Regions from separate parts of the Homo sapiens genome. Here all the other regions are linked to region 1. The links come from fine-mapping of genetic effects on gene expression. A gene starts in region 1. Each other region holds a variant in brackets. All regions are shown on one strand. Distances are between the middles of the regions. Region 1 holds the start of FIRRM (FIGNL1 interacting regulator of recombination and mitosis). Region 2 has its middle 10 kb from the start of SELP. Region 3 holds the start of LOC107985745 (a long non-coding RNA gene).

Region 1 (4,242 bases):
AACAAACAAACAAAAAAAAACCCATAGTCCTACCACAGTAATACAAGAATTCATTCCTCTTCCGAAATCTTATTTTTTACAGCAGCAATCAAAATGAGGTCATCATTAACTCAAATTTGAGTTCAGTAGGGTAGAATTGGCCTCATGAAAAAATTTCAGTAAAGCTCAAATAATTACCAGCTGTTCCAAAATTAGTCAGTTATGATTATGCAGACATGCAGGTAAGGCCTGGAAAATAATACGTAAAATGCAAAACATGAAAAAGATTTTGGGGGGTAATGGCATTGTAGATTTATTGCAAATTTTTCATTTGTTAAAATAGTGAAGCTAAAATACTACCATTAAGCTGAAAAAAAGTATTGTCTAATTAGACTCCCAAGTATTTTTAAAACATGAAATATTTTTAGCCCTTTAATGAATGCTTACTATGTGTCAGGCACTGTTCTAGGTGCTGAGGGTAACGCTGTGAAGAAAATCAACATCCTGCCTTTATGAACTTTGCAACATAATGTGTAGAAGTGGAAAATATACAAAGCAAACAAGAGCATTTCTTTTAATGGTAATGTGCTTTTTAGAAAACTGAACAGGCCAATGTGATACAAGTGTAAGACTGCGTTTGGGGGAACTGCCTAAGATTGAAGGCTCTGAAAAAGCCCCTCTAAGGAAGTGACATTTGGGCCAAGACATAAACATGAAATATGCAAAAGGCTGAGAGAACAAATCAGGCTGAGCAAAAAGATCTTGAGGTAGGTGAGCCTAATGTATTCATGAACAGAGTGTAGTTAATTAACTAGGTATGAGAGAAGGGCAAGGCTTAGATCACCTGGAACCTTGAAGGTAAAGTGGTTTAAAAAGGGAAATGACGAGATCTATGTTTTTCCCCTCTTAACTTTTTTGGAATAATGAATTATGAGTAGAAACAAGGAAACTATTAATACTCCAAGTGAGAGGTGATAAGGGTTTGGAATCAGAGTGGTAGCAATGAGGATGGAGATAAACGGATTGATTCAAGACATAGTTTGGAATCAGAAACAATAGAACTTACTGATCGGGTGTGTGAGACAGAGAGGATTCAAGGTTTCAGTTTGTGAAACCATTTACTCAGATGAAGAAAACTAGAGGAAGTTTGGGCTTTTTTGAATATGTCGTTTGAAGTGCAAAGCTAGGTGGGAATGTTGACTTTCAACTTAATGAAGTCTCTCTATAAGCTTGTGGGGAAGAAGAGGAATCACGTTCCGTGTCTCTGTTCTCCCAAAGCCTAACACCATGTCTCACACACATTATGCACGCAGTTTAAGTGTTTTTGAATGTTTTGAGGGTGGCTATTTGTTTTCAAGTTGAAACTCCTTGAAGACGGCAGTTCTGTACCTACACAAAAACTAAAAAAGGGGGCTTTGGCACCTTCTGAGATTTTGCTAATGCCTAGGTGAATGACTTCTATGTGATTACATAGGGCTTTAGCTGCACAATATTTGTGCAGTATTGAGATTCTCTCAAGTGAAGGTTACTTTTTTTCTTTTGAGTGTAATTGTATAAAGCTGGGCTCAAATGTTGTGAAAAAGATACATATACATATGGTTTACCATGAAAGGCTAGGATTCCAGGCACATTTACAACCACAAAGGCATGAGACCAATCAAGAATGTGCTGCACCCGGACGAAGAAGGCGCTAAGCGCCTCAAATCCAACAGTTGAAAGCCAACAACAAGCGGAAGAACTCTTTCAGAAAGACTCCAGCCTGGGTGAGAGGAGTGAGAACTTGTCAAAAAAAAAGAAAGAAAGAAGAAAAAGAGGTCTGAGAGGGGAAGGAGGAAAATCATTTTTATTTACTGAACATCTTTTAAAGATTTCACACCACAGAACTATGCCCTTTAATTCTTATAACGCTAAGAAAGCCCTTATTCATATTCACCACCCTTTTTACGGGAGACAAAAGCTCAGAGTATCTCGCTTTACCTCAAACTATTAAGAGCCAGAGCTATCGTCATACCGCAGGTCTCAGTCCTTGCCTCCCCCATTATCCACTAGCAAAAGTATTTACACTTAATTGCAAGCAACGAGTACAGAAAAACTGAAAGAAGGAATGGAAGAAAACGCCACATCCACTGCTAAAACCTTGGGTCAGAACACGTCCGCGAGGCTTTCCAGGGCCAAAGCCTTACTTAAATCTACCACGGTTGTCGCTTCCCCTCCAGTCCCTCACTTTTCATCCCACTCACTGACAAAGAAAAGAGGGGGTTCAGGCCGCGGTAATATAACCCAGCCTGGCGGTGGGTCTGAAGGGACAGAAGAGAAAGGTTCGCGACCCGCCCACACCCTTCTCTAGGTAGAAGTGACAACCAAGGAAGGATATGAGGAGTCGGGGCAGGACGGACGGCAGTTCCCGGCGGCATAGCTCCTCTGGCCAGCTACTTAATTCTTCCAGGGGAACCGCGCTAGCTGGGACCGCACCTTCCTGAGACATACTTTCGTCAAACAGGAGAGCTTCAAACCAGACCCGCCAAAGCCCAGACCGGAAACTCGCAGTCCCGCCAACCCTTGCGCGCTCTCCGCCGGCTCCAAAACCATAGAGAGGAGGGCGGCTGGTTTCTTGGTGAGCCCGGGTCCCTCAAGGCCGGAAAGAAAGTCGGGCTTCTCTAGCCCCTGGAGGACTCGACTCACTGGTGCGCGATTTAGGTCCGGAGGAGGCGTTGTGAGGTGAGCTTTTTCAGAAGCGCGATCCCAGGACACGTCGGGAAGCAAGCATCCCCAGGTCTGGATCACTGTAAACATTACATTCAAATGGGGAGGTGAGGGCCAGAAGTCCCCACTTCTGGGGTCGGATTTGTTCCGGGACCTGCAGCCGGAAGTGACTCCAAGCCTTGCAGCGTGATGGGAGAGGAAAGAGGCGCGTTCCTAGCCGCGGGACTGGGTGACCCGCCTCTCCCCCAAATTGTAAATCTTGTATAAAGGGAACAAAGATCCCACTTGCCAGAACTGTGAAAATTGAGGCAGATGGTATAGTGTCTAGCGCAGTAGATAGAAGATTCTCAATAAAGTTGCTTCTTATTTCTACAGGTCTCTCCAAACTACTGCAGTGCCCTAGTTTGCGTTTGCTCTGCCACCGAATTAGTCTTTACTAATTATTGCCAAATTACCCCCACTTCTATACACTTAGGGCTGCTGTTCTCGACTAAATGTTTGGAGTGAAGTCTTGGATGAATTTACACACACCAGGCCATACCTATGCATGTTTTTAAAGGGACGCTGACTTACCAAAATAAAATACTGCACCTCTTCTGTAAAAGACAGAAGTGAAGTTATTCTGGAAGCTTAGGGGGTGAATATGGTTGGACACAAATCAAGACAGCTGAAAGACAGCAAGTAGCTAGGCTGTCCTGTCTGAATATCTTGGACTTTATGTTTGTCCAGGTGGTAGTGGTGGTGGTTGCTGTTGTTCTTCTGTTTGTTTTTATAGTTGATTTTCTTCTCCCACTTTGGAACCCTTAAGGTGTGTATGAGTGTCCAAATCTCTTATCTCTCTCTCTTCCCCACAACTTTTTAAGAAAAAGCAGCTGTATGGTGGGACAGGGAGGGGTGGGGGTGGCTGTTTAATATTACACTTTAGTGAAATGTGCCATTTTGCTTTAATCATCATTTTCTTTCTTTTTTTTTTTTTTTTCTTTCCAGAGCTGCTTGGAAAGAGGACCAAAGACGTCTAAAAAGTCATTTGGAAATATCTCTAAATATTTGTTACCATGTATAAGCTGCTAAAGAGAAATTGGGCCCAACAAAACTAATTGAATAATTGAGGCAGATTTGTGTGTATCATCAAATTCTATCCAGAAGTTGAAGAATCTGAATTTAAAGATTGTGTGCATTTAATAAGAGGATGACCTTTCAGTTTAATTTCACTATAGAAGACCATCTGGAAAATGAATTAACACCCATTAGAGATGGAGCTTTGACCCTGGATTCCTCAAAAGAGCTGTCAGTCTCAGAAAGTCAAAAAGGAGAAGAGAGGGACAGAAAATGTTCTGCAGAACAATTTGACTTGCCTCAGGATCACTTGTGGGAACATAAGTCAATGGAAAATGCAGCTCCCTCTCAAGACACAGACAGTCCACTCAGTGCAGCCAGCAGTTCAAGGAACTTGGAGCCACATGGAAAACAGCCCTCCTTGAGAGCTGCCAAAGAGCATGCTATGCCTAAAGATTTAAAGAAGATGTTAGAAAATAAAGTCATAGAAACATTACCAGGTTT
Region 2 (4,242 bases), 160 kb after region 1:
TTATTTCACTTAACAACTGTGCCATCTTGAGGAAAACAGTTAACGCTCTAATCTTCAATTTCCTTTTAAATAAAATGGACATCAAAATACTGTCTAAGTAGACAGACCAGTTGTGCAGATGGAACCTACCTCATGATGTCGTGGTGAGTATTAAATGAGATATAGCTTTTTAAATGTGTAGCCAGGGTCTGGCCCAAGAATAATGTCAGCTCATAAATATAACAATATCTCTGCTTCCTTTCCTCAGTGACTTTTAAATAATCTATCATGGTGTTCATTTATAAATAGATCACCCATGTGACTATGTTTCTAGTATTCTAGAATGGGTGATAACCCTTCTGTGGTTATCACAGCCTTTTGGTGATCGGAGCGTGCAGACACAGTATGCTTTGGGAAGGATAGAACTTTTTTTAAGGAGAAAAACCACTTCCTAATTTGTCTGTTGATTTTAGAGCATTTTCCTTGTGTGCAAGTTTAACCATTGAGTTTGCACCAAAGAATCCAACTTATTTCACTCAGCTCAAGGGTTTCTCCTCCACACCCTTTCTGACCATCTCTCCACCCCCACTATCAGACTGTCAGATGGCCTCTTGTGGGTCTCTTGTGGGAGTCCCTTTTGTGGGACTGTGTTTATTGACTCCTTGACATTGTCTATAATTATCTGTTTATATGCTCACTTCTCCACAGGTGTTCGAGCTCCTTCAGGACAGGGACTCTGTCTTATTCATCTTTGTGTGATCAGAGCGTAGCTTAGATAATAGCACAGAGCAGGCCCTCACAAAAATATATAAAATGAAAAAATGAACCATGAAGTGGGGCTAAGTGGGTATAAATATGGAAATGTATAGTGTTTCCTGAGGATCCTATTTCTATTTAAGGATATATAGGAAGACAGTTTTTTCAAAGTTCATGTTTACTGTTTGGGACTTTTGTTAAGTTGACTTATTTCCTTGCCTTTCCTTCCCTTTCAAAAACTGGAGAGCAAAGATAAAGAAAAGAAATGTTTGAGCATAATACCACAGGCCAATTCAAATGGCATTTCAGCAAGCAGAGTCACGAGTTCATGAAACTTGTATAAGATACCTTTCTAAAGCTGTATGGGGAAAATTGGCATCTTTTTCCATGACAAGGGGAGAGAACATTAGGAAAGGGACAGACACTTCAGGCAAATGGACCAGAAGTGTTCCATCTCCCTGGGAAGTTTTGTTAAGGACATTAAGCTGTGGGGAGGTTGAATTTATCTTCATTCCTCATCATTATGTTGTATCTCTATCTATATGTATATCTATATCTCCATGTGTATAGTTATACTTATATCTACTTATATATTTGGGAGTTTTTTAGTTGTAACTAGAACAGAAATATATTTTAAAACATCAAAAAGGTTTATGATATATCACTGAATATTAAAAAGCATATTTTAAAACAATGTACAATGTGATTCAGATTCATTGGTGACAGTATTATGAGCAATTTTTCCCCTTCTTTGTGCTTTTCTGAACTTTCAATGTATTTTTTCACAATGAACATATATTAACAGTAAAGAAAAAAAGCTGTAAATTCTTTTTTTTAAATTGTAACTTGTCTTCCTATAACCTATTATTTACAAAGTTCCCTAGTCTTCTGAGTGGAGGAAACAGCTTTGCAGGTGAAATTTTCCTGAAGAAATAACTGTCTCTGATTTGATCTAATGACAGATGGCACATGTGAAAACTCAATTTTAACATAGACCTGGCATAGCCAAGGCCCTCCCTACATCTCTAGCCTCTGTTCCTGCCCCAAGGCCACCATGGCTGTCTCTAGGCTCCCAGGCTGCTTGCTCCAAACCTTGACTGGCCTAGAAAGTTCTCCCAACCTAGACCTCAGCTCCAAAGTCATTCTCTTTATATATATATATTTTATTATACTTTAAGTTCTAGGGTACATGTGCACAACGTGCAGGTTTGTTACATATGTATACATGTGCCATGTTGGTGTGCTGCACCCATTAACTCGTCATTTACATTAGGTATATGTCCTCATGCTATCCCTCCCCCCTCCCCCACCCCACAACAGGCCCTGGAGTGTGATGTTCCCCTTCCTGTGTCCAAGTGTTCTCATTGTTCAATTCCCATCTATGAGTGAGAACATGCGGTGTTTGGTTTTTTGTCCTTGCGATAGTTTGCTGAGAATGATAGTTTCCAGCTTCATCCATGTCCCTGCAAAAGACATGAACTCATCATTTTTTACGGCTGCATAGTATTCCATGGTGTATATGTGCCACATTTTCTTAATCCAGTCTATCATTGTTGGACATTTGGGTTGGTTCCAAGTCTTTGCTATTGTGAGTAGTGCTGCAATAAACATACGTGTGCATGTGTCTTTATAGCAGCATGATTTATAATCCTTTGGGTATATACCTAGTAATGGGATGGCTGGGTCAAATGGTATTTCTA[G/A]TTCTAGATCCCTGAGGAATCGCCACACTGTCTTCCACCATGGTTGAACTAGTTTACAGTCCCACCAACAGTGTAAAAGTGTTCCTATTTCTCCACATCCTCTCCAGCACCTGTTGTTTCCTGACTTTTTAATGATTGCCATTCTAACTGGTGTGAGATGGTATCTCGTTGTGGTTTTGATTTGCATTTCTCTGATGGCCAGTGATAACGAGCATTTTTTTTCATGTGTCTGTTGGCTGCATAAATGTCTTCTTTTGAGAAGTGTCTGTTCTCTTAAAGGAGTTTTCCAATTCCTATCATGCCCTTTCATTGTACCACATTCTTTTCTTCCTGAATTTATTTGTGTGATTTTTATTTAATATCTGCTCCCCCACCCCCAACAAAACCATGGGCTTCATGAGATATACTCATGACTGAATCCCTATGCTAGCACACTCTCAGGAGTCTCAAAGGGACTTAGCTATTTCTTGTGTATTTGAATGCACCAGTGTAATGAGATAAATAGAATTCAGAGAGGAACATGGGAGGGAGCACTTTCATTGTGTCCCCTTGGGGTCTAATGAATCAACCAATGAATCAACAAGTATTTGCTGAGTGTCTCTCTGCCCTCTGCTAGATACTTCAGGTGATGGAAGATTAATATAGGAAAGGATCCCTGCCCTCTGGGAATGTATGGTATAATCTGAAGACATAAAAAAAATACAAACCAGATATATAACACTACTAATTAAATTATATTGGAATTATATCCCATTTTTAGTGACAACCCAAATTTTCTACACAGATTATATCCATATGAGAAAATGGTATTGAGCCTGAGTAGCTTTTAAACAAATTCAGTTTTTTCTTCTCATTCCTATTCCTAGAGATTCTTCTTTTTCATTTTCTTTTTTCTTTATTTTTGGTGGGTATGTGTATATGTATGTATGTATGAATTTAACTGTAATTGATAAATAAAAATTATATATATTTATGGTGTACAACACAATGTTTTGATATATCTATACTTTTGTGAAATGGCTAAATTAAGCTAATTAACATATCAGTGACCTCACATTATTATTTTTTGTGTGATGAGAACATTTACAAGCTACTCTTTTTGCAATTTTCAAGTACAGATGCCCCTCAAGTTACAATGATGTTACATCCTGATAAACCCATCATCATAAGCTGAAAATGTTGAAAGTTGAAAGTGCATTTTCAACTTACGATATTTCCAATTTACAATGGGTTTATCCAAGCATAACCCCATCATAAATCTATACTGAATAAATATGGCTCTTGCACCATGATATAGTCAAAAATCCTAAGTTGAAACATTTTATGTCAGGAATCATCTGTATATAATACATTGTTATAAACTGTAGTGACCATGTGGTACAATAGATCTCTTGAACTTACTCTTCCTAACTGAGACTCTGTATCCTTTGACCAACATCTTCCGAATTCCCACACCTCACCTCCAGTCCTTAGTAACTACCTTTCTACTTTCTGCTTCTATGAGTTCAGTGTTTTTAGATTCCAAATATAAGTGAGATCACATATTGGTCTTTCTATGCCTGGTTTATTTTATTTAACATAAAGTCCTACAGGTTCATCCATGTTGTTGCAAATGACAGGATTTCCTTCTTCTTTTTTGGGTTTTTTTTTTTTTTTGAGACGGAGTTTCACTCTTGTTGCACAGGCTAGAGTGCAATGGCGCGATCTTGGCTCACCGCAACCTGCACCTCCCGAGTTCAAGTGATTCTCCCGCCTCAGCCTTCCTGAGTAGCTGGGATTACAGGCATGTGCCACCACGCCTGGAAAA
Region 3 (4,242 bases), 130 kb after region 1:
GGACCCTGCTGATCAGAATAGTTGTGCTCACCGACGCAGCAGCAGAAACAACCCCTGCCCAAGAACCCGCAACAGTCCCTGGACCCTGCTGATCGGAATAGTTGTGCTCACCGACGCAGCAGCAGAAACACTAGTTTTCCTCCCAGACCACATGGAGAACTGAGGAAGGTCGGATTTAGTGGCCCTTACCAACACATTCTCGAAAACCTGCACCCTTGCCTGTCCTCCTAGACCACAAGGAGGACCAACCGAGAAAAATCGGCTTTAGTGGCCCTTACTGACGCATTCTCAAAAACCTGTTAGAGTCCTAAGCATTCTTCTGTTAGTATTGGGACTTTACCCCTTTCCTATAAAGATGTTATGCCCCAAAAATGAAGTGGAGGGCCATACCCTGAGGGAGGGAAGTGATCTCCAGGGTTGGAAGAGTGACACCTTTTGTCCTCACTTATATGAATAGGAAGGATACAATTTCTGAGGCTCCCCATATCCTAGCTTCAGGAATAGCTTTTGTTATGCCTATTAGTCTGAGGAGGGATCCTAAAATTCCAGGTAGTCCCCACTATGATGGGGCTTTGGGCAAAAATTATGTCTTTCTGATTGGTGAGCCCGGGTGCCTAAAGAAGGTAACAGAGTCCTGGAGTTTATTCTAGAAATCATTCTTATAGGAGAAACTAGAAAAGCACCAGAGACAGGTAGCAATTTTTAGAAGTGGGACTAACCTCGGAGAAGAGAGGCAAGAGGAAGTTTGTCTGGCAGGCATTAGGACCCAGGGGGCAAGCATCAGGATAGATAGGATAGATGGGCGAGAGTCTCGCTTGGGCAACATGCCTTTGAGAGTTCTGCTCATGGCCACAGGGTCAACCAACTTGTTGTCAGGACCCCGGAGCTGCATGGCTTTCCTCTCTGTCAACCCTCGGCTCAGCCCAGAAGTACAGGAAAAGTGGAAGCTGGTTCTAGGCAAACCAACAGTCCCAACTTCGAAGAGTCGGGGGTTGTTAGAGAGCCCTTTCCCAGAAAGCCTGACACCCGTGTCTTTAGTCTGGCGGCCGTGCTAGTCGCTTTTAACTGGCCAACAGGTGCCCAGTATTTAGCCCTCGAATTTTAAGGAAAAATAGGACAGAATAGCAAGTGAAAAGCGTCCGATGGTACTCACTGCTTGGCGATAAGCAATTGTCTCGCCGCACAGTGACAGGCAATGGTCTCACTGCTTGGCGATAGCCTCACCGCTTGGCAATAGGTGATAGTCCCTTCGTGGTCACCAAAATGTGCCCGGAATTGGTGGGTTCTTGGTCTCACTGACTTCAAGAATGAAGCCATGGACCCTCGCAGTGAGTGTTACAGTTCTTAAAGGCGGCGTGTCCAGAGTTTATTCCTTCTGATGTTTGGATGTGTTCGGCCTTCTGGTGGGTTCATGGTCTCGCTGGCTCAGGAGTGAAGCTGCAGACCTTCTCGGTGAGTGTTACAGCTCTTAAGGTGGCACATCTGGAGTTGTTCTTTCCTCCCAGTGGGTTCGTGGTCTTGCTGGCTTCAAGAGTGAAGCTGCAGACCTTCACGGTGAGTGTTACAGCTCATAAAGGCAGTGTGGACCCAAAGAGTGAGCAGCAGCAAGATTTACTGCAAAGAGCGAAAGAACAAAGCTTCCACAGTGTGGAAGGGGACCCGAGCGGGTTGCCACTGCTGGCTCATGCAGCCTGCTTTTATTCTCTTATCTGG[C/T]CCCACCCACATCCTGCTGATTGGTAGAGTCAAGTGGTCTGTTTTGACAGGGTGCTGATTGGTGCATTTATAATCCCTGAGGTGGACACAAAAGTTCTCCAAGTCCCCACCAGATTAGCTAGATACAGAGTGTTGACACAAAGGTTCTTCAAGTCACCACCAGAGTAGCTAGATACAGAGTGTCGATTGGTGCATTCACAAACCCTGAGCTAGACACAAGGTGCTGATTGGTGTGTTTACAAACCTTGAGCTAGATACAGAGTGCCGATTGGTGTATTTACAATCCCTTAGCTAGACATAAAGGTTCTCCACATCCCCACCAGACTCAGGAGCCCAGCTGGCTTCACCCAGTGGATCCCACACCAGGGCTGCAGGTGGAGCTGCCTGCCAGTACCATGCTGTGCACCCACACTCCTCAGCCCTTGGGTGGTTGATGGGACTGGGCGCTGTGGAGCAGGGGGCGGTGCTCACTGGGGAGGCTCGGGCTGCACAGGAGCCCAGGGAGTTGGGGGAGGCTCAGGCATGGTGGGCTGCAGGTCCCAAGCCCTGCCCCGTGGGAAGGCAGCTAAGGCCTGGCGAGAAATTGAGCACAGCAGCTGCTGGCCCAGGTGCTAAGCCCCTCACTGCCCAGGGCTGGTGGGGCCGGCTGGCCGCTCCAAGTGTGGGGTCCACCAAGCCCACGCCTACCCGGAACTCGCGCAGGCCCACAAGCACCACGCACAGCCCCGGTTCCTGCCTATGCCTCTCCCTCCACACCTCTCCGCAAGCTGAGGGAGCCGGCTCCAGCCTTGGCCAGCCCAGAAAGGGGCTCCCACAGTGCAGCGGCAGGCTGAAGGTTTCCTCAAGTGCCGCCAAAGTGGGAGCCCAGGTAGAGGAGGCGCCAAGAGTGAGCGAGGGCTGTGAGCACTGCCAGCACGCTGTCACCTCTCAGTACCAGTACCATGCTGTTTTGGTTACTGTATCCTTGTAGTATAGTTTGAAGTCAGGCAGTGTGATGCCTCCAGCTTTGTTCTTTTTGCTTAGGATTGTCTTGGCTATGTGGGCTCTTTTTTGTTACCAGAATGAAATTTAAAGTAGTTTTTTCTAATTCTGTGAAGAAAGTCAGTGGTAGTTTGATGGGGATAGCATTGAATCTATAAATTACTTTGGGAAGTATGGCCATTTTCATGATATTTGTTCTTCCTATCCATGAGCATGGAATGTTTTCCCATTCGTTTGTGTCCACTTTTATTTCTTTGGGCAGTGGTTTGTAGTTCTCCTTGAAGAGGTCCTTCACATCTCTTGTAAGTTGTATTCCTAGGGATTTTGTTCTCTTTGTAGCAATTATGAATAGGAGTTCACTCATGATTCGGCTCCCTGTTTGTCTATTATTGGTGTATAGCAATGCTTGTAATTTTTGCACATTGATTTTGTAACCTGAGATTTTGCTGAATTTGTTTATCAGCTTAAGGAGATTTTGGGCTGAGACAATGGTTTCTAAATACACAATTATGTCATCTGCAAACAGAAACAATTTGACTTCTTCTCTTCCTATTTGAATACCCTTTATTTCATTCTCTTGCCTGACTGGCCTGGCTAGAACTTCTAATACTATGTTAAATAGAAGTGGTGAGAGAGGGTATCCTTGTCTTGTGTCGGTTTTCAAAGGGAATGCTTACAGCTTTTGCCCATTCAGTATGCTATTGGCTGTGGGTTTGTCACAAATAGCTCTTATTATTTTGAGATACATTCCATCAATACCTAGTTTATTGAGAGTTTTTAGAATGAAGGGGTGTTTAATTTTATTGAAGGCTTTTTCTGCCTCTATTGAGATAATCATGTTGTTTTTGTCATTGGTTCTGTTTATGTGCTGGATTACATTTATTGATTTGTGTATGTTGAACCAGCCTCACATCTCAGGGATGAAGTTGACTTGATTGTGGTGGGTAGCTTTTTGATATGCTGCTGGATTCGGTTTGCCAGTATTTTATTGAGGATTTTCGCATTGATGTTCATCAGGGATATTGGCCAGAAATTTTCTTTTTTTGTTGTGTCTCTGTCAGTTTTTTGTATCAGGATGATGCTGGCCTCATAAAATGAGTGAGGGAGGAGTCCCTCTTTTTCTATTCTTTGGAATAGTTTCAGAAGGAATTGTACCAGCTCCTCTGTACCTCTGGTAAAATTTGGCTGTGAATCCATCTGATCCTGGGCTTTTCTTTGTTGGTAGGATATTAATTACTGCCTCAATTTTAGAACTTGTTGTTGGTCTATTCAGGGATTCAACTTCTTCCTGGTTTACTCTTGGGAGAGTGTATGTGTCCAAGAATTTATCAATTTCTTCTAGATTTTCTAGTTTATTTGCACTAGGTGTTTATAGTATTTTCTGATGGTAGTTTGTATTTCTGTGAGATCAGTGATATCACCTTTATCATTTTTTATTGTGTCTATTTGATTCTTCTCTCTTTTCTTCTTTATTAGTCTGTCTAGTGGTCTATGTATTTTGTTAATCTTTTCGAAAAATCAGCTCCTGGGTTCATTGATTTTTTTTGA

What was found. PIP is the estimated chance that this variant, and not a neighbour inherited with it, causes the effect.
Region 2: its variant is the best candidate, but not a certain one, in a credible set for the expression of FIRRM in whole blood (TOPMed, PIP 0.67).
Region 3: its variant is the best candidate, but not a certain one, in a credible set for the expression of FIRRM in whole blood (INTERVAL, PIP 0.83).

What each region holds. Positions count from the first base shown.
Region 1 is chr1:169,793,325-169,797,566 of GRCh38, reverse strand. FIRRM (FIGNL1 interacting regulator of recombination and mitosis) reads right to left here and starts at 2,527. Exons shown (of 25, transcript NM_001320047.2): 1 at 2,452-2,527; 2 at 1,584-1,738. It overlaps METTL18 (methyltransferase 18, RPL3 N3(tau)-histidine), which reads left to right and starts at 2,660. Exons shown (of 2, transcript NM_033418.4): 1 at 2,660-2,752; 2 at 3,670-4,242. The coding sequence starts at 3,872. RefSeq lists an enhancer at 2,608-2,927.
Region 2 is chr1:169,638,314-169,642,555 of GRCh38, reverse strand. No RefSeq gene overlaps it. Among named protein-coding and RNA genes, the nearest start is that of SELP, 10 kb to the right of the region's middle. The variant G/A (reference allele first, on the strand shown) is at 2,436.
Region 3 is chr1:169,659,435-169,663,676 of GRCh38, reverse strand. LOC107985745 (a long non-coding RNA gene) reads right to left here and starts at 1,345. Exons shown (of 3, transcript XR_007066727.1): 1 at 1,154-1,345. The variant C/T (reference allele first, on the strand shown) is at 1,714.